3 separate regions of the Homo sapiens genome follow, and regions 1 and 3 are each linked to region 2. The links come from fine-mapping of genetic effects on gene expression. A gene starts in region 2. Each other region holds a variant in brackets. All regions are shown on one strand. Distances are between the middles of the regions. Region 1 overlaps SKAP2 (src kinase associated phosphoprotein 2). Region 2 holds the start of SKAP2 (src kinase associated phosphoprotein 2). Region 3 has its middle 18 kb from the start of LINC02860.

Region 1 (10,573 bases), 140 kb after region 2:
TTTGTATATTTCACATTGTATTGAGGACAGTGGTTGTAGTGTGTATCAAAATCACCTGGGGTGCTTGCTAAAAATTTGGTTTCCTAGACTCACCCACAGAGATTCCTATATAGCAAGTGCAGAGTGGTAGCCAATTCTGTGTTAACAGGCGTCCAAGTTGATTCTAACATAGGTGATTCTTAAAATATACTTTGAGAAACACCTTTTTAGAAAACAGTGTGAAATGGCTGAAAAAGCAAGGCTTTAGAACCAGACTTTCCTAGGGTCCTGGCTTTTACTGTTTACTATTTGTGTGACCGTGAGCAAATTGGTTAAAGTTTGTTTTCCCATCAGTGCTGGGAATATAATATGTCTCCTCTATTGCTTAGAATTATTACCAGGTGTATATGAGATATGTTCTATTAAGTTCTTGACATGTAGAAGCTCAGTAAATGTGAGTTGTCTTTTTGACAGCTTAAAAAACCCCCAGAACACAGCTGTAAACCTAAAAGCCAGTGAAAAAGTAGAAGGAAATTGCTCTTATTAGCCTTATGCATTTTGTTTTGTAGGAAATCAGAGCCAACTGCTTTTTACCTTGAACCTGCTGAATTAGGATTGTGTAAAATTAAGTTACTGATATAATAGATTTCATTATCTAGTTTTTCCTGGCAGCCTTCAGTTCTGTAGACATTACATTCAAACAGCATGATAGAGGTTAGGTTAAAGTGTGAAACAGAAGCTGAGAGAAATGTAATAGAGGAACAAACACCTCAAAAATTCTGAAGGCATCAATGTGTTATAAAAACTAATACTCAAAATGATACTATGTTAAGAAAAAAATGTTATGTTTAAAAGATTTGTTTGAGAAGTTAGGCAAGTATATATTTTAGAAAGCTTTCCATCACAATGATTAACATTTTTAAAAGTTTTGGCACTTAAAGGAATAAGCTTTTGCTATTTGTGAAGTTCACCTAGATAAAATATTAGTCTTTCACAGTGCTGGGTAAATGGACTTTATAGCTTTATTTCCTATTTGATTGGCATTTTACTATTTTTGATAATTTTGTTAACAGGTATCCTTGAAACTATCCCAAAAAGCAATTGTGGAACTAATCTATATGTAAATTCTTATGACTTACCACATAATGGTGAAGTTTCTCTCTCCAGAAGAGAAACTAATGTGAAAGGAGGAGAACAGTGTTGTCTTATAGCCATGTCTGCCCATTTCACGTCTTGAACTTCCTGTCCTGTATTGGCTAATTGGAGATATGGCTACTTCATGGTTATGGTTCTGCAAAAGCTATTAGAAAGAGTTGTGAGTTTCCTCTGTTCAACCTTTCTGGGCCCATATCCCTACCCGACTTGGATGTTTATATAATTGTTTATCCTCAAATACAAACAATCAGTTGGATAGGTCTAGATATTAGTTTCTTTTTATTATTTTTACTTGGTTAAACAACAGCACATTTTGTTCTGCAAAGTTAGGTCTTTCTTTGATGGAATGAAGTTTTCTTTTGCTATATTATGTCTTTGGTTATTGGCATTTATTTATTACTCTTCTTCCAGAAAACCCATTTTTCTTATGTTGTATTTTTGTCAGCCCTCCATATTTATCATACTCCCTTTTGTCCCTTCCCCATCCCCTTATTCTTATTTTCTATCTGCTGAGTGAGCTTTTCAAGGTATATCTGATCTGATTTTCCACAATGTTAGTTCTACTTTTTATCACTTCTAATACATCATTTGTTTTGCTGCTGCATTTTCCACTTCCTTATACAGCATATTTGTTCCTTATTTTGCCAGTTTCATTTTAATTTCTACTTGTCTCAGCCTTTCCTCTTTTTATTTTATATTACATTGTTTCATCTTTCATCTCTTTCAGAATCTGTTTACTTTTATAAAATATGCAAAGCAGTTGGCTAAAGTTTACCTTCATTTCTCCTACTTCGCTTGTGCTTTCTACTTCTCAAGTGCTATGTTATGTTTCTGTTTTACATAATATTTTTATGGCATCTGTATTTGCTGTTCCTCTTTTCTTATCCTCGAACAAGTACATGTCTATGAAATCTGAGATGCTTACCTATAAATTGGATTTGTGGCTTCTCTCTGGTTCATCTCAGTAGAGGCTGATACTGTCCTCCTCTTGGACTGTATCAGAAGTTCTGATACATAGCCCCATAGCATATTTCTAGGGGGTTTGGCTAAAATGAATCTGCTAGTCTGAGTTGGGGTTGCCTAATTTTGCTGCCTAATTGTCTTATTTCTAGATTATTAGATAATCTGGCCCAGAAAGATCTGTTCCCCTCAGCTCTTCCAAACTAAATCTTTATAGTGCTGATTTTATATCTCCAGGTGTAGACTCCCACTCCTCATGCATTTCCACCTGCATTCAAGTTACATTGATGAGAATTTTAGACCGAAATTGGAGGTAGAAGGCATAGGTTTTAGGTCAGATGGACCTGGTGAGTGGAGCGATTGAACCCTTGCGCAGCAAGGGAGCAGCTTTCCTCTAAATCTGGTCCCTGAAATTTCTCTTTCTTCTGGAGAGTTTAAGGAACTCTCTCAAAATTGTCCAATATGGCTTTGATATTTTGCCTCACATTACTTCCACTTTTCGTAGTGAACATTAAGTTCCTTTTGCAATTTAGTAGATCATTGGGAAGGTGGCGCGAAAGATCTGATAAGGTGTTCTAGCTTTTATCTCGGCAAACCTATAATGCTGCGTGCTGGTTTTAAGTGCTTGGTATCAATTTGTCAAATGAGTGAGTGAATGATTTAGTCTTTTTTTGAGAATTTACAAGAACCAACCATGCTTAACCATTTATCATTTTAATACTTTTTTCCCAATAGTTTCCTAGTTAGGTGTCTTACGAAATATATCCTGGGAGTACCATAAAATATTCTGTGAAAAATGATTCCGCGGACAAATAATTTTTGGAAATGCTGCATACTAAATTTTTCTTATAGAAGTTTAATTACTATGTAAATGTACTAAGGGCTCCAAGAAGGCCTGAACTAACAAAACTGCTTAACTCTTGTTTAATTCGGCAAAACGTTTCCCAAATTGATTTGATCACAGAAACCTATTAATATCTTTGGGAAATGCTTCTCTAATCTTTAAAGTACTGTATCGTTTTTGTGAAAAACATAGAGTTTATTGTAGAATTTTTTCATGAAATAAACTTTGATTGTTTCTTTAGACATTCAGAGAGATGTAAATTATGACTAAATGTGATTAGAGTTTCCCAGGAACTGAGATTTTTTTTCTCATTTGATATTTTGAACAAGATATAATCTCTATGACCTAACATATGTTAGTTACTTTAGGCATTTAACTTGTGTATTTAAGAAAAGGAGATGTATCTTTTATTGGTACACTGAACTGAGAAAGCACACCCCACAACACGAAAGCATTTCTGTATTTGCCCCGAGCTCAGTAAAAGAGTTTGTCCCTACTCATGGTTTTAATATTGTTTGTTAATCTAGGAAATAAACCTATAGCTGTATAGTTTTTCTATCAAAATGGTGTAACTGGGTGAAGTAGGAAGGTTGACTAATTTTATTTTCAGTTTCAGAATATTAAGTCCTTTGTTATATTCGCACTTTACTTGTCTTTAAAATAATATCTGACCAAAGCTGTAATCATCTTTTGCCTCTTTATCATGTGAGATTCAAATGTGCTTTACTAGTTTAACTGTTCACTGACTGGATAAGAAACTTTCCCTCTATTTTTGGTAACTAATGCTTCTGTACTTGCTTTACCACTCTTCTTTATCCACATAGTTTTTTTTTCCTTCACATCTTTTTCGTCATGAGTAGTTTAGTTTAGTTTTGGTTTGCTTTGTAAGGTTAGAGATAAATTTGTACCAAGTTAGGAGACCTTTTTTAAAGAAAACTTTTGTTTTAGAAGCTTCTTTTTGGTGGTGGTGCTGGGGAGGGATAGGTGAAAGGAGATAACAGTAGATAAAGCCCGACAAGTTTTCAGCTGGACAGATCTTCCCACTGGCCTACTAAATCTGAAAGAGCCAAAGGTTTGTGGTGGGTTTGTCTAGCAAGTTCTATGTTCTAGTTCCTGAATTTTCCCTACCCTAGAGTGTCATGTTTCCATACTTCCTTCCAAATAAGACCATGATCTGCAGACCTCCTTGTAAGTCCAATCATCCCTAATACTTCCATGTTTCAGAATTAAAAATGATTTCTAAAAACATTACCTAAGCATTATATTACTAAAGCAATATGACCAAAAAATGTTATTTCCAAGAATTGATGAAGAAATTTTACATAAAAGATAATTGAGCATTAATACTTAGTAAATGAAATTCTAACTGGTTTTATCTTCAACAGACAAACAACAGAAAGGTGAATTTGCAATAGATGGCTACAGTGTCAGAATGAATAACACTCTAAGAAAGGATGGAAAGAAAGATTGCTGTTTTGAAATCTCTGCTCCTGATAAACGTATATATCAGGTTGTAGTTTTTATGTTGCCTTGAAATTAAGTTGATAAAATGTTTTGATTTCATTTATAGAGACATTAACATTTGATTAATACTTTCCTTGACATGTTAACAATAATAAAAATACTGATGTTTAAATATATTATGCATTGAA[C/A]ATTCATATAAGAGGAAATTTTTAAAAATTTCAGATTAATTCACACACTATCTTCTTGAAAAAGATAAAGAGAATATATAATTTATCAATTACTTCACATGTTGCACACATGTTGCATAGAACATAGGTGATCACATGTTGCATAGCACTAGGTGATCTTCCAAAAGAATTACATAGCAGAAAGAGTAAAATTATTAAAACAAAAATATCAGAGTGATAATACATATTGTATTGCTTAGGAGTGTGGGAGAAAATGAAGGTAAAAGTACACATCAGCTCTGCAATTCAATAGCTATCAGCTAGGCATCAATATGGAATGTATGTTTAATAAGTTTTAAATATCTGAGATTGCAGTTGAAAGCCAGTTAATTAAGTTGTCAGGTAGTGTGTTGGAATCTGACAAGAACATTTTTAAGAAAACTGTGTGCAGCAGTCTAAAGAAATTCATGGGTGTCTTCTAATTGTCAAGGGCAAATTTTGTTCATCAGTTCTGTCTTTGACATTGATGAAAGAGAAGCAGCTTTTTTTCCTGCACAGCTGCCAGCTGCTGATCAGCGTTTGAAATTCATCATCCTCTGCTTCAATTGCATAAATTTGTCAAAATTAACTGTACATTATAAGAAGCATCCTTGCAAGAAAAGTTCCACTAGACATGAAAAGAATTACTAATAGTCTTAAAGAAATGGTAAGAATACAACATACCTTTCATTCCTACTATGGTGATTTTCGTTCTTACTGTTTGTTTTATATTAGTTTACAGCAGCTTCTCCCAAAGATGCTGAAGAATGGGTACAGCAGCTGAAATTTGTATTGCAAGGTAAGATAAATCAATCGAACAAGTTATCACAGTCTTTAAATACTAAATAACAGAGTAGTTTGGGTTTTCATATACAAAAGCTTATTGACTTCTGTGAGAATGACCAACTTGAATGTGACTGTTATTAATACAGACCACTCACTTCAGATTTTAAACAGCATCTTTTCTATAAGTACCAATTGGCTTACTTTAAAATTCACATATTTACAAAACAATTTTTAAACATGTTTTTAGTTAAGGACATAACATATAACAATATTGTTGTTGCTTTGTAGGGCTGCATTTATTTATAAAGTATAGTTTTAAAAATATCTTCTGCATTCTTTTAAAATTTACTTCATGAAATGTGTTTTATAGATATGGAATCTGATATTATTCCTGAGGATTATGATGAGAGAGGAGAATTATATGATGATGTTGATCATCCTCTACCAATAAGCAATCCACTAACAAGCAGTCAACCAATAGATGATGAAATTTATGAAGAACTTCCAGGTATTTACTTTCTGGTGATTCATTTAAAGATTTTAGGGCTGTGTGTGTGTGTGTGAGTGTGTGTGTGTGTTTGTGTGTGTGATTTGTCCTCGACAGCTTGAGTAGAAAATGGTGACCTATTGAGAACAAGGACAAAGAATATCTTCAAAACTCTATTTTACAAAAAGGGTTCTGCTTGAGATATTTCAAGTGAGTAGATGTAACTTACGAAAAGTGAATGAAACATTAAAATGAAGCAGATACAATACTAATCTCTTGGGACTTGTGGCTCATTAGCATTGTTTATGCTACATAATTTTTTAATTAAAAAATTGACTTGCCTTACAGTTTTTTCCACCAACTCACACATCGTTTTTTATTTATACATCTTGGAACTTCCATTAACCAGAAGTTCTATGCACACCCCAGATGTTACCAACTTCTGCCTCGTATTTCTCCTTGCTTGTAGTATATTGCACTGTCTCAGAGGAATGTTGTTGAACTATAAACAAAGGCCTTTTGAGGCTTCAAGTCTTCCTGTTGATATTTTAGCATCAATATGGAATAAAAAAGTTTTCTTATTCCAAATGCTCAGACCTAGTTTAGTGTTTACATGCCTGTCTGTTATGTAACATAAAATTAATTATCTATTAGCTACTTGACTTGCGGCCATGAGGATCAATCTAAAATAAAAAGACATCTGAAATTTAGGAAACATATGAAAACATTTAGGAAATTGTATTACTAATACTCTAGGCTGAAATGAGCTTTTTTGGCTATTAAAAAATCAGTAGTTAGAGAAGAAAAAGGTATCATAAGCAATATAAGCAAGATTTAACTAGTACATCTCATGTAGAGAGGCCATTTTGCTCTGAATATAACAATTTAATGATGTAATGTTAAACCTTTAAAATTGATTTCAAAAATACTTAAAATGTTCCAAATTAATGTACAAATGTCATTTTCAAGACAATACAGCATAATACCAAGAGTATGGACTTTAGAAGAAAAAAATTTAAATTCTGGCTGTACCATTGACTAGCTTAGTGACTTTATAAGTTAATTTCTTCATTTATAAAATGGAAATAATGTCATTGGGAGGGGTAGGTGAAGTGATTTATGGAAGGCTTTCAGCATAGTGCTTGATCCCACAATTAATTGTAACATCACCATCATTTTTGTTTTATTATTGTATCTGGTGAATTCTTGCAAGTGCTTATGTGGTGGTACAGTAATGGTTTTCTAACCAAGTAAAAAGTAATAATTTTAACAATATTATAAATTTAAGGTATAAAAACTATGTATGCATCTACATATTGTATTTTACTACCCCAGAAGATTAGTATAAAAGTATAATTTTATGGGGAATAGTGATCTGTGTATTTCAGTTGTTTAGTGGAGCTACATGTTTATTAACCCCTTCCTTTCTGGTTTACCCTAAGGAAATGGCATCTGCTGTAGCATCAGTTATCCTCAAGTAGGGAAGAATATTCCCTGGCTGCTTGTTTTTGGTCACACCATATCATTAATACAATTATTTTAGTATTTAAAAATGTTTAAAAGAACTTGTGAGAATGTATACTCATAAAATGGAAGAGTGGAATACATTTAAACACGATATTACTGCCATTACATCCTTTTAAAACCCTGCAATGAATGTGTTACATTACAATTGTTGAAATAACTGTTAAGTTCTGTATTTTTTCAACTTGGCTGTTCTCTCCCCACCCCTAAAGAAAAAAAAAATTGATCAGGAATAAAGACCAGATATTCATAGTTATTTTCATAACAAAGACCTAAGGAAGGTCTGAGTAGCTTGAAATTTTAAAAATATGAAACATCTTTTATTTTTTCTTACTGGAGATATTATTCTTCATTCTTCCTTGCCCCCCTCCTCACCCACCCTCACACATAATTGTTGGAAGTAACTGGTTACTTTTTAAGTAGTGTTACTTCTTGCTGTGGTACTGGGAGAAATTTAAGCTGCCCTGGAATTTCTTTTCCCCTGCTTGGGATCCCCAGTTGCTCTGCAAAGTGATCGAGCTTGATGGAGCCTGCACCTGTGCCCCGGGAAGGAAGCCGTTGTAGGCAGCTGTGGAATGTCTAGTTCCCTTCTTCCCCAATGTAACTGAGAGCTGCTTCAACATCTGCACGGTTCAGCAAGTTTGTCAAGTTTGTGCCAACGGCTACAGAGGGGATTTTTCTAGTAAAGGCCCTAAAGGTGTCTCAGAGTTAGAGGTTTTGTTTGATTAAATGTCTGAAACTAGGAAGGTAACTTTTTTAATTAAAACAATTGTCTCTCTTTCAGGACAAGAATTAAGCTTATTGCTTTCACTTCTGTGAAATTTGAATATAATTTTGATAGAGGAGTTAGAACAATGGAAGAGCAGTAAGCACATTTACATACTGTTGATATTTTTCCAGTTCTGTGCAAAGAACTATGTATCTCTGATATCTGACTGGCTAAATTCCCAGAATTAAATAATACTACAATTTCAACACAATTTTCTGTCAATTATGCATTGTTGAAAACTAATCCTCTTAGTTGAAAGATGAGGTATACAAATGTATTTGAAGAGAAATCTAAGCATTTATTATGCTACTTTAAATCACAAAGCTCTTTTTCTGAGAAACGAAAGCTCTTACTCTAATAAGTGTATTTTTTAAAAACTATGAAATAAACCTGCAGTGTTTTGAGTTTCAAGAGTAAGAAGAAAACGTGGTTTTAAAAATTGCAATGGGCTGGGCGCAGTGGCTCACGCCTGTAATCCTAGCACTTTGGGAGGCCGAGTTAGGTGGATCACTTGAGGTCAGGAGTTCGAAGCGAGCCTGGCCAACATGGTGAAACCCCGTCTCTACTAAAAATAAAAAAATAAAAATAAATAAAAAATTAGCCGGGCATGGTGGCAGGTGCCTGTAATCCAAGCTATTCAGGAGGCTGAGGCAGGAGAATCACTTGAATCCGGGAGGCGGAGGCTGCAGTGAGCCAAGATTGAGGCACTACACTCCAGCCTGGGCAACAGAGTGAGACTGTGTCTCAAAAAAAAAAAAAAAAAAAAAAAATTGCATTGCATAATATCCCTTGAAAAATGTTTATAATTCTACAGGAATCTAAATTGTTTCATTGTAATTGTTTTTCAGTTAGAATATTCTAACTTCATTACAGTACCTTCTGTTTAATTTCTTGTTCATTTATTTTTAACTAACTTCGTAAAGGAATAGGAATAAATTTGTAAGACTTCTTTGTGTTTAAGGGATTTATACATATGTACAAAAGAGTTGCGAGAATGCCATTTCTGGGGAGTATTAAAGGTATTTGGCTTTTCTTCAAATATCCTAATCCTTTTACATCTTTTATGTCTTATTGCTTATTAGCATAGGCCAGTCAGGTTTGTTTACATTGTAATAATACTATAGCATATTTGTGTTTGTGCAGCTAATATATTGATCAAAATGTGTTAAACTGTTTAACATGGTAATGAGTTCATTTGGCTCAGCACAGGTTTGTAAATTTATTGCTCACTTTTTCATTAGAAATACAGAGGAGTGTCTTTGTCTCATTTTGAATCTCAAAAGGGGAAAATAATACTCGTGAAATTGCTGCAGAAACCAACCCTGTTTGCTCTTCTCTTCTATTCACTATGTCACTTGATTTTTTTTCTTTAATGGCAGGAAATTGTACAGAAACAACAACAACAAAAAGATTTTTCTAGATCTAAACTGAATAGAATCAGCCTAGTAATGAGAATGGTAACCATCCATTAACTTATTAAATCTGTAGCTTTCAGAGGGATTGCACTTGAAATGTCTTCTGGCAAGTGGACTGGAGGAGAGAGGGCAACATAAAACAGGAAGACAAATTTCTATTCCATTAACCTATTTTTTTTAAGTGTGAATTCATTTTTTTTTAAATTACAATGACAGATTGAACTATTCTGAGTCAGAAAAGGATATTTTTATCCTTTGGCCATTCAATTACATTTTAAATGTATTCAGTCCAACTATCTGCATCTAAAATAGAACATAAAGTAAAATGCAGCTATAATTTTTTTCCATGAGACTATTATATATACATAAAAAAGAACAGTGTTTGGGTACTTTAATTTGAAGTAGTTTACAGCAAATGGACACAAATGCTAATTTAGTCAATAAGTGGTTATAGGCCCCCAAAATACATTTTGGCTTTATTTTCCTCCTGAATAATTATCACTCATATTACTAAGTTAATATCAGGGTTACAGGGGACCCTGCAGTCTGTGGTATTAACATTGTTTTAAGTGATAGTAGATCCTGACTTCACCAAACAATTTTTCTCCTTTCTTCTTTGGAATGCAATGGAAAGATGTCAATTAATTTTCATAGAACCACATATATTCAGTATTTTAATATTGTTAGTCTAGGCAGCCTGCTAACATTATTTTTTCTTAAACTAGGTACTGAATGGTGAAGTTATCAATGTGGTGATATTGTGGGAATAGTTTTTCCCAAGTAGATAACTAGATTAGGGTTGAATTTTTGGATGGTGATATGGTTTGGCTGTGTCCCCACCCAAATTTCATCTTGAATTGTAGTACCCATAAAATCCCCATGTGTCCTGGGAGGGACCAGGTGGAGATAATTGAATGATGGGGGCAGTGTCCCCTATCCAGTTCTCGTGATAGTGAGTGAGTTCTCATGAGATCTGATGGTTTT
Region 2 (10,573 bases):
AGTTTTTGTCTTTTATTTGTTTGTTTGTTTTGAGAGGCAAGATACAGACTCGAAAATGCTCTATTTTTTCTTTTATAACTAGTTTACTTTTATCTCAGAGAATTACACAAAAATGTCATACTGCATTTGACTTTCTAATTTTTTATTAGACTGTCTGAAGTGTTTTTGATGAACTATTAATAAAGTTGTTATTCTGTGTTAGGTTTAGGGTTCCAGCTGAGGATGAAAGATAAGTTACAACAAATTTTGTGCCCTGTAGGAGCTGGGAAGTAGCAAAGTGATTCTTAAAATGAAATTTCATGATGTCTTGCATTCACCTATGAGGACTTTTTTTTTTCAGTGCCAGGGTCTTGCTCTGTTGCCCCACGCTGGAGTGCAGTGGCGCAATCTCGGCTCACTGCAATCTCCACCTCCCAGGTTCTAGCAATTCTCTTGCTTCAGCCTCCCGAATAGCTGGGACTACAGGTGCATGCTACCACGCCCAGCTAAGTTTTTGTATTTTAGTAGAGATGGGGTTTCACCATGTTGTTCAGGCTGGTCTCAAACTTCTGAGCTCAGGCAATCCACCCACCTCAGCCTCCCAAAGTGCTAGGATTACAGGCATGAGCTACAGCTGAGGATTGTTTAACACGCAGATTCTCAGGCCCCACCCTAAAAAGACTGACTCAGAATCTCTGGGGATGGGATTTGAGAATTCACAATGTAATAGGTTCTCTCTGTGATTCTAATGAAAACTATAGTTTGATCTAGTGAAAGTTGGAGGGTAAAGGAATAAACAATTTACAATGTGACTGGAGCCCAGGAACAATGTAAGATATAATAGTAACTTCTAGGAAAGAGCCACTATCTCTACCAAGGGAAATCTAAGTGAAGGCTTAATATAGAAGCTGACATTTGCGTGGTTTTGAAAACGTGCCTTGCCAAGCAGAGATGGAGGGTGTGGCAGGGGGCATCTCAATGACTCATGTTGTCAATGATATTTTCACTAAGAGAAATACACAGTGTATACTCACTAAATGCTTTGCCTAGGAAGTTTCTGTCTGAAGCCTTCCTCCTCAGCCTCTATTCTGTGTTCTTCAGGGATTTCAGCGACTTCATTTTCGTTGATGGTTCCGCACCAGGTTTTGAGGGATTTTAATGGTTAAGAGGCACTTGAATGTAATAAATATGTATATACGTACATATATGTAATAAATACATGAGTGTATACACACACACACACACAAACAGGCATACCTCACAGATTTTCCAGGTTAGGTTCTAGACCAAACCAATAAAGCAACTATTGCAGTAAAGTGAGTCACACAAATACTTTGGTTTCCCAGTGCATATAAGCATTATGTTTACTGTAGTTTATTAAGTATGCAGTAGCATTATGTCTGGAAAAATAACTAACACACCTACTTAAAAATACTTTATTGCACCTGGGCATGTCGGTACATTCCGGTAGTCCCAAGCCACTCAGGAGGCTGAGGTGGGAGGATCCTTTGAGCCCAGGAGTTCCAGGCCAGTCTGGGCAAACATAGAGAGACCTCCATCTCTAAAAAACCCCCAAAACTTTATTGCTAAAAAATGATAATGATCATCTGAGTCTTCAGCATGTTATCTTTTTTCTGGTGGAGGGTCTTGCCTCAATGTGAATGGCTGCTGACTGATCAGGGTGGTGATTGCTGAAGGCTGGGATGGCTGTGGCAATTTCTTAAAATAAAACAAAAATGAAATTTGCTGCCTTGAGAGACTCTTCCTTTCATGAACGATTTCTCTGTGGCATGTGATGTTGTTTGCTAGCATTTTACCCACAGTAGAACTTCTTTCAATACTGGAGTCAATCCTCTCCAACCACTGCTTTATCAACTAAGTTGACGTAGTATTCTAAATCCTTTCTTATTATTTCATCAGTATTCACAGCATCTTCACTGGAGTAGATTTCATCTCAATAAACCACTCTCTTTGCTCATTCATAAGAAGCAACTCCTCATACCTCCAAGTTTTACCATGAGATTGCAGCAGTTCAGTCACATCTGCAGGCTCCACTTCTAACTGTAGTTCCCTTGCTATTTCCACCACATCCTCCACTGGTCTTGAACCCCTCAAAATCATCCCTGAGGGTTGGAATCAACTTCTTCCAAACTCCTGTTAATGTTGGACATTTTGACCTCTTCCCATGAATCATGAATATTCTTAATTGCATCTAGAATGGTGAACCTTTTTCAGAAGGTTTTCAATTTACTTTGCCCAGATATATTAGATAAATGACTATCTATGGCAACTATAGCCATATAATATATATATATATGTATATATATATGTATATATAGGTATATATATGTATATATATGTATATATATATGTGTGTATATATATATGTATATATATGTATATATATGTGTGTATATATATATATATATATTTTTTTTTTTTTTTAAGATAGGGTCTCATTTGTGGCCCAAGCTGGAGTTCACTGGCACAGTCATACCTCCCTGTAATCTTGAACTCCTGGGCCCAAGGGATCCTTACATCTCACCTTCATGAGTAGCTAGGACTACAGGCACACACCACCACACCTGGCTAATTATTCTTTTTTTTTTTTTTTTTTTTTTTTTTTTTGTAGAGATGGGGTGCCACTATGTTGCCCAGGCTGGTCTTGAACTCTTGGCCTCAAGTGATCCTCCTGCCTCAGCCTCCCAAAGTGCTGGGATTACAGGTGTAACCCACCATGGCCAGCCATGAAATGTATTTTTTAAATAAGACTTGAAAGTTGAAACTACTCTTTGATCCATGGGCAGCAGAATGGATGTGGTACTAGCAGGCATGAAAACATTAATCTTCTTGTATATCTCCATCAGAGCTCTTGGGTGACCAGGTGCATTGTCAATAAGCAGCAATATTTTGAAAGGCATCTTTTTTTCTGAGCAGTAGATCTCAACAGTGTGCTTAAAATACTCAGTAAATCATTCTGTAAACAGATGTGCTGTCATCCAGGCTTTGTTGTTCCACTTATAGAGCACAGGCAGAGTAGATTTATCATAATCCTTAAGGGCCCTAGGATTTTCAGAATGGTAAATGAGCATTGGCTTCAACTTAAAGTCAGCAGCTGAAATAGTTCCTAAGAAGAGAATCAGCCTGTCCTTTGAAGCTTTGAAGCCAGGCATTGACTTCTACTCTATAGCTACGAAAGTCCTAGATGGCATTGTTTTCCAATAAGTGTTGTTTCATCTACACTGAAACTCTTTGTTTAGTATAGCCACCTTCATCAGATATCTTAGCTAGATTTTTTTTTTTTTTTTTTTTTTTTTGAGATGGAGTCTCGCTCTGTCGCCCAGGCTGGAGTATAGTGGCGCAATCTTGGCTCACTGCAAACTCTGCCTCCTGGGTTCACGCCATTCTCCTGCCTCAGCCTCCCGAGTAGCTGGGACTACAGGCGCCTGCCACCACACCCGGCTAATTTTCTTTTTTTTTTGTATCTTTTTTTTAGTAGAGACGGGGTTTCACTGTGTTAGCCAGGATGGTCCCGATCTCCTGACCTCATGATCCGCCCGCCTCATCCTCCCAAAGTGCTAGGATTACAGGCATGAGCCACTGCACCTGGCCTTAGCTAGATCTTTTTGATAACTTGCTGCAGCTGCTTCACCAGCATTTGCTGCTTCACCTTACAATTTTATGCTCTGAAGATGGCTTATTTCCTTAAACATCATGAACCAACCTCTGCTAACTTCCAACTTTTCTTCTGCAGCTTCTTTACCTCTCAGCCTTCGTAGACTTGAAGAGAGTTAGGGCCTTGCACTCGATTAGGCGTTGGCTTAAGGGAATGTTATGTCTGGTTTGATCTTCTATCCAGAACATGAAAACGTTTCTTTACCAGCAATAAGCCTCCTTCGCTTTCTTATCATTCGTGTGTTCACTGGAGTAGCATTTTTACTTTCCTTCAAGGACTTTTCCCTTGCATTCACTACCTGGCTGTTTGGTGCAAGAGCCCTAGCTTTTGGTCTGTCTCGGCTTTCAATATGCCTTCCTCACTAAGCTTAATCATTTCTAGCTTTTGATTTAAAGTAAGCTTTTGATTTAAAGTAAAATGATTCTTTTACTGGAACACTCAGAGGCCATCGTAGGGTTATTAATTGGCTTAATGTCAATATTGTTGTGTCTCAAGGAATGGGGAGGCCCAAGAGAGGGAGAGATATGGAGGAAGGTATAGGGTTGGTAGAGCAGTCAGAACACACACATTTATGGATTACAGTCGCTGTCTTATATGGGTGCTGTTTGTGATGTCCCAAAGTAATTATAATAGTAACTTCAAAGATCACCATAACATATACAATAATAATGAAAAAGTTTGAAATATTGTTAGAATCACCAAAATGTGACAGAGACATGAACTGAGCACATGCTTTTGGAAAAATGGCGCCCACAGATTTGCTTGATGCAGGGTTGCCACAAACCTTCAATTTGTTAAAAAATGCAATATCTGGGAAGCACAAAGATGTATGCCTGTTAAAGGTTTTAAAGAAGCCATTTTTTTTAAAAGAGAAAACTTTTAAGAAGCTTTACAGATAGAAGACAGTAAGTATTTGTTGACTAAATGGTCAAGTTGGAGTGAGCAGATTTTATAATTTTATTCTACTAACCACCACCAGCAATTTTATTTTTGATGCTTGTAGATGGACAGTGGTGCCAATGTCTATTCGGCCTTCTGTTTTTTTGTTTTGTTTTGTTTGTTTTTTCCTGCCAAAGGACGGTGCTTAGAACTTCCCAGTCTTCCTTGTAGTGGGGAAAATCTGTCACCCCAAGGATACGAATTAGGTAGAAAAGTAATGTAAGAGCCAATCACAACGCGCGCTCCGGAGCGGCTCCAGACTGGCTTCGCCCGGACGACTGGCGGAAGACGAGACTTCGTTACCTCCGTTCAATCGGACAAAGAAGGCCATAATAGTTTAGGACAAGAGAAAATTCCTTGTGGGTTAAACTGCGGTGGGACTGACTGTTACGCAGAAGGCGTAATCGCAAAACTTGTATACACTCTGTATCATGGATACATTATTTTCTGGAATCCTGCAGAAACGATCAGCAGTTGTGATGGCACCAGTACCGAAAATGGCTGTAAGGCGCTCCGGACGCTGGATCAGGTGACGCAGCATCAGGTGACGCAGCCTCAGTCCGCCCCCTTCCCACCAGTGGCTCCTCCTCCTGCTTCCCGGCGTAGCGGTGGGCGTGGCTTGCCCACAGGCTCTTTCTTCTGGGGCCGGGAAAACCGAGGAATACACATGCGCAGTTGGACCCCTCAGGCCCTTCGTGTCCCTTCCCACCCATCTCCCCGCCCCGGCCCTCTGGGCGGGGCTGGGCCGACAGTCCAGCTGCAGCTCGCTGGAGATTCAGTGACTTCCTTGTTGTGAGCCCCGGCCCGGCAGTGTCCCGACTCGTAGCCCCGCTGTTCTTAATCCGGGCCGCTAGCCTGAGTCTAGGTCGCAGCCGCAGCCCCACCCCGTCGGTCACCTTTTCAGCGCAGGTCCTTTCCCCGCACGCCCTGCGCTCCCTAACATGCCCAACCCCAGCAGCACCTCCTCTCCCTACCCCCTCCCTGAGGAAATTAGGAACCTGTTGGCAGGTAAAGAGCGGGAAGGCGGCGATAATGCTGTCGGGGCGGGGGCGAGGGAACGGTGAGCCGGTGGGGACAGAAGCATTCAGAGCCCTTATCCTCCCTCCCCGCGCTTCCCACGTCTTCTAGCCAGTGGGGTCGGCACAGGGAGGAGAGGAGAGGGGTTGTTTTGTCTCAGAAAGGGAGTGGACGTGTGTGTTGAAATTTGGTGCGGGGATGGTGGCGAAGCCCTTTTTGGTGATCTACACAAATGGGATCAGGACGTTTCTATGTGCATTGTGAAGACGGTGTGTGTGTGTGTGTGTGTGTGTGTGTGACAGAAGGGCGGGGGAGGAAGAGTGGAAGAGGGAGAGAGAATGATAATGATAATGAATGCTGCGTGAGCAAGCAGAAGGGAGCAGAAGTCAAATAAGTAGTTCTTGGGTGGTCTGGCCAATGGAGGTAGAGGATGTAGAGATGCAAAGAGCTGTCAGAGCCACAGGTGTTAGGGGTTATGGGGTGAAAGAGTTTGTCATTTCTAAAACTCCCGTTTTTCTTAAACATTCAGCTCACTCACGTTTAAGACTTTTGAAGAAGGTCTGGTTCTCAAATGGCCACTTGTCCCCAGCCTCAGTAATATATTAAAGCAAAAAAGGAAGGATATGTTAAAGTTCTACTTCCTGTGTGACACGATGAAAGTACTTCATCTTTGTACCCTTATCTTCCCTTTTTCAGTTTTACATTACCATTTATAGGAACTTATTTTAGGAGCTAAAAACGTGGTTCTTCAGTAGCATTATGAATCCACTACTAGTTCATTAATTTACTGGATACGGAGGTGTGTATGTTCACTAAGAACCAATAATTTATATTTCTGTACAAGGTAGAAAATATATGTTTTTAAGGTAGCACAAATCTTACCTATCTCAATGTTCTGGAATTTCAACCATCATTTATTTTGTCTTGTGTACGTCAGAATTCTGGAAACTGAATTTTGATTTTTAGTTTTAGATGTCTATAAAATATTTATCTCTCAGTATTGCTTATGAATAACTAGATTACAGATTGCTTATTCTAGCTCTTAAAAAGCAATGTCATCTAAAATGTGACATTTGATGACACATTTTATATGTTACTCCTATAGCAATGTGAGTCCAAATCTCCTAATATTCTGTCATTCAATTTTGGTGCTTGGCATTATTAATATGGTAGTGTAATATTAAGTGTATGAATGTAGACTTATGTTTGTATGATTATGGTACAGTATGTTGAATGCATTTGTGGTGGGATAGTCTTTCACTCTAAGAAATGCTTGTTGTCATTAACGGGTACCACTAAGGGAAATAGTTAAAGAAGTCTAAAGACTGACTTCAGGCAGCTTTATTGCATCACATGACTACTGATTTTGTTTTACTACACTTAACATTTTTTGTTTTTACAATGCTGGAATTGTTTGTTCAGAATATTATTGTAATAACCAGCGCAGAAAAATGTTTATCATTATTCCAAAAATAGATGAAACCATTTTCAGGATATTCTATGTCTGTATTTTTGAATTTAAGAAATAACATATAGACCTCTGGGTGCATGTTTTAAAGCTTGGTACCTCCCATAGTACAGTTTGTTATTTGGATCCATAATCATAAATCACAGATAATATGATATGTAGGTCATGAGAACCTTTATTCTCTTATCCCCATAGATCACAAGTATTTCCTGTGGCCCTTATTTGTGTAATTTAACTAAAAACTCAAAATTACATATTTAAATTATCTGCCAATGCTAACTTCCAATATATTTCTGCCTTCTCTCTTTAGTCAGGTAATATACTAGCATAGCATCTGAAATTATTTTAAGTCATTTTATTGACATTTTCACTATTTTATATTATTAAAGCAAATCACATATTAAAACACACATGAAGTATTAAAAAATATTACAATTAAAACTTTTGGAATTGGAAATTTGGATTACACTTTATTTTCAGAGGATATTTTCAAGAAGTATGGAAGTGAGTTGGGGCGTATTTATGTTTAAAGAAATTTAACAAATCAGTGTTTTTCAGGTTTTAAAAAAACTTATTTGGAAAGTTGCTAACATTTTATGTTTGACTGTAATTAAAATCTTTTTTGAGGTAGAGAACGCTTCAAGAATAGATGCTGTCAGCAATTGTTTCATGTATTTCATCTAAAAATATTGTTAGCATTGTACATGATTCTTTTCATAATTCAAGTGTATTGGGTAATAGTATATGACTAGATTTAGAGTAACATTATAGAAGTATTTATATTGGTTTGAATATTAGAGATATTGCTGGCTTATTTAGTCTATTTCTTTGAAACTGAGGAGATATTGGTAATGGTGTTGTAGTTAACAGTTGAGTGCTCTTAGAATGCATGGTACTATGCTAGAATTCCAAGGTAGAGAAGATAAGGAACTAAACTTTTCAGGGGTTTAAAGTCCTTTGTTTTTAGAAAGAAGAATATATAATCAAAAGATAATGACTGTTAAAATAATGTTGCTTAGATGTATCTGTTTGTGTTCCATATGCCTATTAAACTAAATCATTATATGTCATATGTACTGTTTGAAATTTCACCTGCTTAAAAGGGATAGGTACTCAAGTGTATTCTTATTTATTATTTTTCTTTCTCTTTATTTTTCTGTCTGATTATGGCAGTTCTATGCTATACTTTCAACATTTGTTCCCTCTCCCTTTTTCCTTCCCCTATAAAAACCATTCCATAGAAATGTAAAAAAAAAAAAAAAAAAAAAAAGAGGTTGTTATTGTTAACTCACATGTGTTGTGTAAAGATACCATTGAAAAAGTGGCTATCTAGTTTGATTTTTAGTTATATTTTCTGTGGAGTCAGTCTTGAAGACCTATGCTTTTTATAAAATGTTGATTATTCTTTTGGTTATATGAACAGAAAAGGACTTACAGAATTTCGTTGTTGAAAGCAAATTTTGAGCTGCCATATGCATTACAGGCAACCTTTGATTTTTTTCTTTTCTACAACAATGGAAAAACAGGTTTAGCCTGGATAATTGAAATCAAAGGACAATCCCAAATCTTGTCCATTTAATCTTCTCTCACATCCAAATATTTTGACTAGGACTAGCAGCAAGAATAATCTTGATTTATGTGATTTTTTTTTTTCTCTAGACAGGCAAGAAAGTAAGAGGAACTAGAACCACTTCCCTCCAGCCTCCTTCATTTGTTTAATCACCCTTTAAATAATGGTTTGTTAGTGGCTTGCAATCAGACCTTCTCATTCATCCTCATTCATTTGTTTTAGGACAACAAATTTTAAAAGGAAAGCTCTAAGAAGATGTTATTTTCTGTTTACTAAATTAGCAAATGAAACCATTGTTAAAAGAAGAAAATAGTGATTGTTAGTGCTCTGAAAAATCAAACCAAACCAAACAAACAATAAATAAGTGATCTTGAGGTTTTGTTCACATGGCACTCTTGATTAGAAATACCACATTTTCCCTACTGGGAATTTTTAGAACATTAGAAAATTTTTTCCCACACATTGATTATAATGTGTGAATATTTTTTTCACACAATATTATTTAGGGTATGTAATCAGTCCCCTAAAGGGATTCCTGTAGGGGCACTAGGTGAAGAGTGCAATTTATTTGAAATAGAGGCAGAATTTTTTCAATGCTGAGTATATTACGGTTTAATTTCCACCTTTCCAAAGTTCCATTTATAATTTGGTCAACATTTTGGTTTTATTTTTCCTATGAGAATTATTTATGGTGTATCTAGTGTCCCATAACTTCCTTCTGGGACATTGGCTGAGTATGTAAAGGGAAGAGTGCCACCTACTGAGTCACCAATAGTCACCTACCTCCTTAGCACCTGGGTTTTCCTATGGAGCAAGAACAAGCCTGCCCCATTTGGGCAGCAATCACTAAAGAGCATAAAGTTGATATGAGAACATTTAATCTCAAAATGAAATCTATCGTACCTCCAAGATATTCTTTTCTAGAAATAGGAATATATGTAAATTAAGGGACTAGAGGTTTACAGAGTTTTTTGTATGGGCTAAATAATATAGATGAATTAAGATGTGGTGTTAGGAAAATTATTTGCCTATTTTAAGTATATAATGTCCTGCTTTTTCTTGGGAGGAGATCTTTTGGCATGGCTGTCCATTGAAAGTATTTTCATCTCATTACTATATAAGGCTCTTGATACTACGTACAGTTTTTATAGCTACCCAATCCAAATTATCATTGGTTTTCTTCAAAAAGAAGAATCTAAACATATTAAAAAATTAGCATTATATGAAAAATTTGCAAATGGGCTTATTGCTCCTGTTACCAGCATTAAAGTATTACTAGAAAGAAGGTAGACACAACAGAGTAGGAAAAGCTGCTGGTGATTTGAAACACAGTTTAGTTGTCTCATAAATTTCAGATTAAGTGTCATATATGGGTGATAAAAGTGGCATAGGCTAGATTTTATATACTCATGATTCACTTAGTTTGTCTTTTTCAATTAAAGCTAAGTCTCTTTTTCATTCCACTGAATTTACATTTCTTTTTCAATCACATTCTGAACACATTACAATAGATGCTGCCTAAAACTGAATATAGTGTAAATCTCAGACTAATGTGTTATTCACTGTGGCTTCTTTGAAAATATGTAGTAAAAAGATTTTGATTATTGTAAGGTGCTATTTATCAAGAGTCATCTTTTAGGGTTGAAAGATGTTCAGCCCTACCTTTAAACAGCCCAGCTTTCTATCAAAATACATCATTTAGCTTCCCAAAGTCAATTTTGGAAATTTTGTCCAATGATTGGATTGTAAGACTCTGGTATTTTTTACCCATTGTACCATGAGAGCTCTTGTGCCAGTTCATGTCACCTTTTCCATGTTTGAAAAGTCCACAGTTCATCTGTAACCTGTAAAAGTGCTAAGTAATCAGGGAAAGACATCAGTTAGAACAATCAATAACTTTTCAATTAGCCATTTTCCAACTTTG
Region 3 (10,573 bases), 210 kb after region 2:
AGTTTCTAAATAAACTTTTCTCATGATATTTAAAACCACCAATCTGCTAATAATAGTCTTTAGGTATATGTTGTAATATTTTTTTAAACTGACATTCTAAGGAAAATTTTTGTGCTGACTTCCTTTGCCCATTGTCTAATCCTTTTATGAACTGTTTCTTCCAGATGTCTATCTATGAATGTTTGTGTGTGAATACACACTTTCTAGTTAAAAAACATCAGATGCATATCTAGGAGTGACACAATTTTATTTTCTCTAATTAGCCTTGTAATATAGCACTAATCTTGGTTTGTAGTTTGTGAAAATATGGGGCTAGAAATGAGGGCAAACCAGAACCTCGTTACATGTAACCTTAATGCTTTAATGTTATAACTTTAGGCAAAGCTAATAAAAGATGCAAAGGACTCTTAAATAATTTAAATTATCTAAAAAATTGAGCATATTCCTTCAAATAATAATGGCTTTCATGAACTGATTTTTTAAAAATTCATTTTTCATGTGAATTACTTAGAAGATATCAAAGTAAGTTTGAGTTTATTTAAGATTATTAAGTATATTTGTTATGCAGAGTCGCTGAAGATTCCATTTTCTAGTCTAGCAATTGTAATCTATAGCGTGATGTAGTACATAATTCTGGTAACATCGGATGATGTCATGGTAGTATAGAGTTAATTCTTAGCACTTCTCTTTAAAACGGTGCTTTGTGATGTGATTCCTTGATTATTTTGAACCATTAATCAATTCTATCAGCTTAAAAAATAGACACATTGTGTACCTGTTACCACTGGTTTCTAAAATCAAAGTTTCTCTTACCATCTTAACCTTACCAGTTTAAGCTGGGAAACTATTACTTTTATAATGTGTTTATATTATTATCATTACATACTCTTTGATAAAGGAAAACAATGGGACTATACTAAATTGTGGCAACTGTGATTAAAGATAAGTCTGTTTTCTAAACTTTTCCTAAGTGATTATAGTAGAGAATTTCAAGCTATAAGTATACCATCCTTTGCTTCTCCTAAAGCTATGATCTATAGCAATAAATACTCTGTATTGATACTACTTAATTTTAATGGATGTATACTGAGGCTGGAAACATATTGTAGCTTAGCATTTAGTGCCTTAATTTTTAAACAGTTTTGAAATTTTAAAAATTGATATAATTGCCTGAATATTTTGTTATTGGACCCGTTTCATGCTAGAAGATTATTCTCATTTCACATCTTTCCTAAAAATTATGTTGTTCACAATGTATTTCTACTGACACTTCATTGCTATTTTTGCATAACTGAAAATCTGTCATTTTCATTTTAGCTCAGTTTGGAAACATGAAAACCATATCAGAGCAGCATATTAAAGATTAGTATAGAAACACACAAAAAATGAAAGAGCCACATAGAGATAAATTTAGTCACATTATTCAAGTGTGCCATTTTAATCCATTAATCTGGTTTGAGGCTGCTTAAGAGAAATATTTCTCTCTGAATGAGTTTTTTCTCTTAAAAAAATGTTGAGAAGAGAAGCATCTCATCTAAAACAATTACCATGGGTTTTTTTGTTTTTTGAAGAAAAGGGTAAAGCAAGAGCCGCCCTAAACTCTGCCATAATTTATTCTTAGTCAAAAACAGATTACCATTTACACATTAGGTATTAAAAGCTAGTTATAGTGATTAAAGGTTGTCTTTCTAATGCTATGTATTAAGATACCAATACGACATTTATTTTCAAGCTATTTTGGGGCCACAGGGGAAGTTGTTTTTCTTATGAAGGGAATTCTGTATTTTACTTCATTATTTATAAGTATATATATATTTAAAACTATACACACACACATATAACTGGGAAGGGGAGAATGGGAGCTGGTTGTTTCTTTGAATCCTAATACTGTATGTCTTCTTAATGAACCTGCCGCATTGCCCAGAAAACAGCTCCCTGCAAATAAACATGCTAGAAGTGATTTAGCCACAATGTCCAGACTGTGTAAACATCTCATTATTACAATAAAATTGTCAATAAATTTACATTACTGCTCCCTTTTCAAACGTTAACCAACTTTTTCTTCACTTGATAAAAGGGCATAAATTGTATTTTTATGTGTTGGTGTTTTTGTTTTCATTACACCTCTTGCTGCACTCTAGACAAAAGACCTCAAGCCTTAATGCCCTGAGTTATTCCTGGATGAAGAAAACTCCTACAGTTGTTTATTAATGTAATGTGCTGTGTTCCTTTCACAGTGAGATGGACATGGAGCCCTCACAATCTGATCTTTAGTCACGGCATTTTTTAAAAAGCCATAAAGCCAGTAGTATTGTAGTCACTGCAGCTTTAAGAGAGACACAAAGAATTAAGGCCCTTATAATCCACTATTAGAATGGGAATTTAAGTTACATTAGAAGCAAAAGATAAAACGGCAAAATGCAATAATTTCCTTTAATAAAGATTATGTCCAGTTTTCAGAATTATGATATCACGTCGAACATAATTGTGGAATAAGCCCCCGCCCCACCAACACACGTATTTCTTATATAACTGGTACATTAACATTAGAAAAGCAGAGTGATATTGAATTCTAATGAGGTCTGGCCTATATGCTCTGCTAGGAGAAGAATGAGGATAATTCATTTGTATTCTACAAAGCACTTGGAAATCCACGGGCATCCCTGTGGCTTCAGCACGTGGTGCTGATCATCTGTTCCTACTTGGAGTTGGTGGGGGGGTGGGGGGTGGGTATTCATTGCTTTGAACAGCATCTGAGCTGGGGAAAATAGTTAACCACTTTCTTGCTAGCTGTTGTTTCCTAATGACTATTTAATATGGTTGCTCTATGCATTTGCATTACCTATTCTCTTCAAGGATCTTAAAAATTGTGATGCCTGTGTTGGTGACAGTGCACCTCTGTAGAAGCCAAACAAAGAAAACGAAGTGAAATTCAGTAGGATAAATGTGTTTTCACCATCCTCAGTAAACATGTCAGTTTTAAGTAAACAATCAGATGACAGTGAGGTATTTGTTCATTAAAAAAAAAATCTGAAAAATGCTCCATTTGATCTGATACTGGCTGTTCAGGAAAAACTGCATTCATTTGTGAGTCTTGCTGACATTCTGAGAAAACAGCCCATTTTGGAAACTTATATTTAGTAAAACCAAGGAATGAAAGATTTTAGCAAATTGCCACGTAAAATGATCTGCACAAAAAGGCATTGGGGAAGTGAGCTAAGGCCTGTGCCAAACAGATGGCACCCCCTGCTGTGTTTTTGATTGAAAAAGAAAGGTAACATTTGCAGCCACGTCAAAGAGACAGTGATCAGCTAAACAAATTGGTCTCCAAAGTACCCCATCGCTAGAGCAAACCCCGCTGCAGGGTACAAGCGAGGCTGTATTTCAAAATAATGCTATGTTTGCGTCTTTCCTAAGTGAGGGGATATGTCCCCTTTTCATGCGGCAAAGAGAAGATGAGGTCTTTGTTGAAGTCGACTGCAGTACTATCTGCAGAATAAGCAACAGACCTCAGTAGCACAATTACCCGTTTTCTCTGATCACCGCCAAATGCCTACAAATAATATTTGGGAAGACCGCAATAGCTTCTTATATATTGTTCACTTTCCTGTGTCAGGTCTCCAGAGCTTACAGAGAGGAAATTGGTATGCAGCATACAAACAAAAACAACACCAAATCATGACAAAGGCACAGTCTGAGGAGGAGAAAGAAAGAGGAGATCAGGAAAAACTCTCCTTGCACTTGAATTCAATTGCAAAATACAAACATCAAAAATGGCAAAGTGTGTGTCAGTGCGTAAGTTGGGGCGGGGGGGGCGGGGATTTTTTTTTTCTTTGGCTCATCTCAGCTGGCAGCCTTATTCCGCTTCAGTAAAGACAAGGTACAGAAATGTCCTTTGGGTGACATTCAAAACTCGATATAAATCCTCTGCTTTATGAGACTGCAGTGCAATAAATTACTTAGCCTAATTGTAGATGTAATGAATTACCATAATTAGTCATGGGCTACATTAAATTAATCAGCATGGTACATTATTTTGCTAAATTACATCTTTGCCTTCCAAAGCCACCAGTGCAGCAATCAGTGTTTTTTGCAAGAGGGGAATGATGCTATAATGAGAAGCCTTTCTGCTCCTAGAACAGTGACAGGATATGAATTTTGATGGGAAGCAGGAAGGTTTGGAAACACTGGAGTTCCAACTTGTGCCTTAAGTGTCTTTGGTTGTTAATGATACCCCAGTCCTCCTGCAGGGGAGCAGTGGGCTGTAGCTTGCGAAGGCTGTGGAAGATTCCCCTCACAGGGGAAGAAAAACACTTAGATGGTGCTTTAAGGCAAATAATATAGCTGATACAACAAGTCACAAAGCAGTGGGGTGGCAGAAAGATAATGTCTTTGAAAATATTAATAGATTTAGAATGTTCTTTTACATTGGTTGATGAGATTTATAGTTACCAGGTATTTCTTTATGAT[T/G]ATTATTATTATTCAGACCGTTTGGATCCAAGATAAAGCCTGTAGCTATTCTTGTTTTTTACTTAAACCTCCAGCTGTTCAAAATCTTGCTTCTGCTTCTCAGTGGGTGATCTGGAGGCAACCCACATATGATCTAAATATTATTCACTCTTCAGGAAAATCTCGGGCAGCCGTGGGGTTCATAGACTCATAATCTGGGAGTATAGGTGCTTGCTTTTGTAGAAGGTCTTTTTTTTTTGCACTGGGGCCGGAGACACATCCTGGTAGATGAACCATAGAAAGTAAGAGGTACTTCACCCATATTAACTCTTTGTATGAAATATCTTTGTAAGTTCCACTCTTTCAAAAAGCAGTGCTCATTCTCAAACCCAGTTACCTGCTCTTTACTGTCCTGTGTTGTTATGAAAGAGTTTCTGCAATAAGATTCATTGTCTTGATTCCAGAATAAGCTCTTTGGGGTTTGTATAATATTTTTGATAGTTTCTTGGTTTATTTTAAGAGAAGAGCTGTAACTGATCTGCACATCTGTATAACGGAGATTCAAGAAAGGCTTTCAGAACATATCTGTGTTTTTGTTTGTACACTTGTCTGCTCATACCAGAGGAAACCAAGTTATTATCAACTTGTTTGGAAACAGTATAACAGTGGAATGACACAGTGAACGACTATGATATGAACACAATCTTTAAAGAGTGGAAGTGAATTAAAACCTAATATCCAAAAGAAAAATACAAATAAAGCTTGGTCACAGCTGTAGAAAAATGCATAGGGATGCAGAAAAGTCCTGTATTGTAATTTGTGTTTTTGTCCTGGTGGGAAGCCATTTAATTAGTGCAAGAAGGTATTGAATTTTAGCTTATCATGCATATTGTTTTCCAGCTGTACTGAGGATTGCCAAGTTTCTAATGGCCTGACCCTGTTCTGTAAATCAGCAGTAAATTGCGGCATTTACACTGAGCAAAGGCAAAGGGCTCATTCTGTTGGGTTTGTGCTGTCACAGGAACCTGGGCTAAGGGATTAATAGGCTGATGTTAAACATCTGTCCCCTGTCTTTGGGGGGACGTAAACACACAAAGAGGGAATCTAATGCCATCTACTAAAAGATCTTCAATGAGAGGAAGCCCTTGCTAACATTTCCATCCAGTGGCACCTTAGACACATTGCCTCTTTATGCTAAAACCCCACAGCACTAAGGGCCCTATAAATAGTCTCCATGTGACAGCTCAGAGAAGAAGAGAGGTTTCCTCCAGACATTAGTTGTGCTAAAAGATTCATCATTACCTGCAGTCATGAAATAAATCTTTGATACTTACAACTATAATATCCATGCTCTACGTTTTATTGCAGATATAGGTAGACAGTCATTATTTCTGACACTTTCTCAGCATTACAAGGAGTACTCTAGGGGGAAAACTAGTGTACGGTGTTACAGAAATAGATTGATATAACCACATAGAAACCAGTTACTTTACTGAGCCATTGTAACCAATACAATATTCCCTTAATGACATTAAACAGTCACCTAGATTCCAAATTCAGTGTAGGACTCCTATCTAAAAACAACCTCAGTTATCTACAAATTAAGTTGCCAAGAGGGAAATTTATTTTTTTCATCATACAATGGTTTACAAGAAATATATTCCTGAATGACAATAATTTTTTTTAGCATTCAAGTTTATTATTATTTAGGGGACATTAAAACAAGACAATGGTCAACAGCAATCACTTTATGGCACTTGTGGGGCATTAGAAATCAGTATATTGAGAAGCCTCCGCTTAAGAGGACTTGGAGTGGTTACTGTACAGTAGATACTAGTGTCACATAAATTGCAATAACATGATTTATCATACAGAAGAGGTGTTAAAGTTGTCTCTGGCCATGAGCTATTTAAGAGAGAGGCTTTTGCACAATGTTTTTGAGCCCAGCAAGTGAGTTATGGAATCCTGTAAGAGTTCCTTCTTACCTGTAAGTCACTGCTTTTAGCAGTGGTGATCTCCTCAAAACCCCTGAGCAATAGTAGGCACAGGATTTCAACCTTTAGTTACATCACTTGTAACTGACTGCCACATGCTTTACCACAGCAGCTCTAAGAGGCCATCTGATACACCTGGGGACCACCTGATATCACCAACGGGTCCCTGGATCACTGAATTCAACTAGTAGTCGCCACTTCTGAAAAGAGTTATCAATTCAAAAGGAATCTTTGTGTTTGCATATTTAAAGCCAAGATAATTATTGGTAGTGTCTGCATAACAAATGTAATTTCAATTAGACTGTTTTTCTCAATTAAAAACTATTGCTTGTGTGTAATGAGTATTCCTATTTTTTTAAGTGCATTTTTAATGTTTTTATTCTAAGAACATTAAGAGCATTGAACAAAAGATTGTCCGATTACTGTATAATGGTAACAAATATGCCAAGTCTTTCATTTCTGTGGGAACAAGTGGGGGCCAGTGGAGCAGGGCTGTGAAGGCTGATTGTTGCAGAGATCTTCAACACCAGACTAGAGGGGACAACATTTACAGTTGTACGGTTATAGAAGAGTAGGTTTTTTAAAATTTAATTTTCAAGAAAAGTTGCAAGAGGTTATCCAAACACTTCTTTGTGGCTTAATATCCATAACATTTGATAATGCTGTATTTCTTGTGTTGAAATGTAATAGCATAATGTTGAGACTTCTACCCATATTTAGGCTACTGAATAAAATTAAAAACAATATGACCTTCTGATAGCATATAAAAAGATTGATTGTGCAAGAAAAACATTTGCCATGGTACATAGGATCATTTTACCATTCTCAGGCAGATTTGAGAATTATGCAATTGAATGGAAAAATCAAACCAGAGATCCTTCCTTCCTGTGCAAACTGGTTTCCATGGCTTTCATAGTCTGGCAGTTGGGGCTACCGCTGTTGTTGATTACAAGACATTTGCTTTTGTTGTTGGTTTTTGCTGGCATCGTGTCTGAAACAGCTTAGGAAAAGTGAATATTCATATGTGTTCTCCCCATCTGACATCATTTCACCACTCTCAGGCCTCTCCATAGTGTTGCTTCTTTGTATCTGGAGAGAAGCAAGTTTTTAAAAATCACTTGTTAAAATGGATCTTGGATGTTTGTTTCCTATTTTCTAAAAGCAGGTTGGCTATTTTGCCCTTGAGCCTTAAGAAATGTGGCTCATTGGCTGTTTGTTATTTTTAAGTAATATATGGCATGTATCCAAGTAAGCATTCCAATGACCTCGACAATAAAATGTGATTCTTGGCTGCAAGGTCTGTTGGGGGATGGCAGGCTGCCAGCCACTCATACATCATTTACAGGTGGCTGTTTCTGACAGGCCAGTGTTAGTTATTGTAAATGAGTGACAGTCCCTATAACTCACCTGTAAGCCCCACTCCACTGGCCCAAAGCATCCAAGATCCCTGACCTCTTTGGCACACGTGCTTGTCTATCGTGAAGACCCCCACACCCATATCCTCACATGCACGCTGCTGCCTGCACAGGCTCATCAGTACGTGGAGCTACCTTGTATGTGATTGACGATAATTAGGTTTCAACTGCCTTCTGATGCAGAAATACACACCATTACTGCATGGCCAATTCAGCTCCTGCAGTCTTGCCTCTGAAAGGGTATTGATTCACTCTTTCACATTTTTAAAAGGTCATGGCAATAATTCCATCTGAACTGTGCTAAGTGAAAATGGTTTGTAGAAATAATATGGTTGCTTCTTAGTACCATTGTAATTGAAAACCACAATGACTTGTTTTTTTAGTATACTTTAATTACATATGTCACTTTGCTCCATCTTACCCTGATGAAGTGTTTGTAAAGTTATAACCAGCCGACCTTTTCTGTTAATGCTTTCTGACTTTTTGGCCAAGAAGACTTTTTTGTTTTCCTACCGTGTAAGGTGAAGCCTAACCAAACACTTGGGTCACACTGCCTTATTAATTTATGAATTGAAAAGAGAAGACACGAACCTTTTCCTGGGGTCTGTCATCTGCCTGCCTGTTTTAATAAGATTAGAATATATTGGCTCTGGTGAACAGGATGCTAAATTTGCTTACTTTCTGAAAAATTGTATTGTAAACAGCCTCTTCTGGGTTGGCTGAAAAATATTATCCTCGATCGTTATCAGAACATAATAAAATGAGTTTGTTATGAGAACACATAGCTCCTGTAGTGTAACCACCCTAGCAAGTGACAGGAACCTATGAATGATATAGCATAAATTGCCAGAATACTCAGACCGCAGTTTGAGGCTTTTTCCTACATCTTCAGTGTTTCTGAGGTGAAGGAGTTTTAAAGTGCTTGAATTGCATGTTTTGGGAAAGTGGGTGATCAGATTTTATGCTCTGAGCCACCCCGTATCTTTCTCCCAGTTAGAGGGGGTAAAGTATCAGCTGTTTCTAGCCTCAGAAATGAGCCAGTCATTGCACTTGCAAACTAAGGGGCATATTCTCATTGAGAGCATGGGGATTTACGCACATAATTACCATTAATGCTAATGGCATTTATGTCTGTACAGCCCCACACATCAAGATGAGAATATATTTCCACGTCTTCACGCTGTGAAAGTCCATTTAATATTATTCATTTTACAACTTATTTTTAAAGATGATGTCCATATTCTGTCATGGCATACGTATGCCTAGTTAAAAGTAAATGTGGGAAATATTGGGAAGAGATGTGATAGCTAAACTTGTTCATGTAGATGAAATATTGCTGAACTCAGATCCATTCATACTCTTTAAACACAACGCTCTATTCGGCTTTGAAACTGCTGGCACACTTTTCATACTGCTATAAATTTGTCAGCCTAATGGGACATTTTGTAGATGTTTTCCTTTTTAAGTGCTTTAACAGGAGTAGGTATTCCATTGATCCAAAAATCCAGCTCAGCGTTTCATTTCTTAGAGATGAGAATCATACATTTAATGTCTTATCAGAAATTAAGTGGTGGATGGTACCCTTCATCTCTTCAAGGAAAGAAAATGTGCTCCCCACCGAACTCTGTTCTCATCTGGCCTCTGGGAACATCTCGAGAGTGCGGCATGGTTTGCAGTTGGAAACATCAGTGGTCATCAGAATCTGAGGCTGTTCCCTCTCTTCATTGATTGTGTAGTTGTCTTTATGCATCAGGCCCAGTAGCCTATTGAAAGGTGTCTTCATGTCTATGCTGGCCAAGCAAATTCAGATCCAGGTCTTGATTTATCTTTCCAAGGACTTTGGCCATTAAAAGAAAATAATGGATCTATCCCGACTGTCCAGTCTCTGAAGCCCTGATCTTGCAAAGGGGCTATGCATTTATTTATTTTATTTTATTTTTTTGAGATGGAGTTTTTCTCTTGTTACCCAGGCTGGAGTGCAATGGCACAATCTTGGCTCACCGCAACCTCCGCCTCCCAGGTTCAAGCGATTCTCCTGCCTCAGCCTCCTGAGTAGCTGGGATTACAGGCATGCACCACCACGCCCAGCTAATTTTGTATTTTTAGTAGAGACAGGGTTTCTCCATGTTAGTCAGGCTGGTCTCGAACTCCCGATCTCAGGTGATCCGCCCACCTCGGCCTCCCAAAGTGCTGGGATTACAGGTGTGAGCCACCGCGCCCAGCTGGGGGGTTCTGCATTTAAAGCACAGACATAAGAAGGGGACAGGAGTGCTGAGGTCTTTCCTGAGGGCACCCTTCAGGTCTCCTCCATAGGTATACACAATCTCCTCTTGGGGAAAGAGAAGAGCTTTACATCTCAGAAGGCTAAATGAACTAAAGATGCCCAATAGTGCCCAGCTGGGTGACCTCAGGGAGGCCACTGGACCTCTCTGAGCCTGTTTTCTCACTGATAAAATTGAGCAGAATGAATACTGAGTGTTTTACCTGATTAAAACTTTATAACCAGTGCCATGTTGTGTTTGGCTTTTATAAGTATTGGGATTACGGGGAATTATAATGAATGACCAGAAGGAAATACTGGTTTCCAAGGGTTTAAGCAGATGAGGAGAGACTGCTTTAACACAACACATTTGTAGTGCAGATAAGATATAGTCTCACAGCCTAATTCCCATGCCCACTCCGCATCCTCATACATGATTACATTGCATTCAACTT

Evidence for each region. PIP is the estimated chance that this variant, and not a neighbour inherited with it, causes the effect.
Region 1: its variant is the best candidate, but not a certain one, in a credible set for the expression of SKAP2 in esophagus muscle (GTEx, PIP 0.61).
Region 3: its variant is the best candidate, but not a certain one, in a credible set for the expression of SKAP2 in lung (TOPMed, PIP 0.81).

What each region holds. Positions count from the first base shown.
Region 1 is chr7:26,720,757-26,731,329 of GRCh38, reverse strand. SKAP2 (src kinase associated phosphoprotein 2) reads left to right here. Exons shown (of 13, transcript NM_003930.5): 7 at 4,324-4,448; 8 at 5,344-5,407; 9 at 5,765-5,902. Among named protein-coding and RNA genes, the nearest start is that of LINC02860, 88 kb to the right of the region's middle. The variant C/A (reference allele first, on the strand shown) is at 4,591.
Region 2 is chr7:26,859,392-26,869,964 of GRCh38, reverse strand. SKAP2 (src kinase associated phosphoprotein 2) reads left to right here and starts at 5,375. Exons shown (of 13, transcript NM_003930.5): 1 at 5,375-5,602. The coding sequence starts at 5,536. RefSeq lists an enhancer at 4,808-5,137.
Region 3 is chr7:26,650,978-26,661,550 of GRCh38, reverse strand. It overlaps a transcript of SKAP2 not described here. Among named protein-coding and RNA genes, the nearest start is that of LINC02860, 18 kb to the right of the region's middle. The variant T/G (reference allele first, on the strand shown) is at 4,471.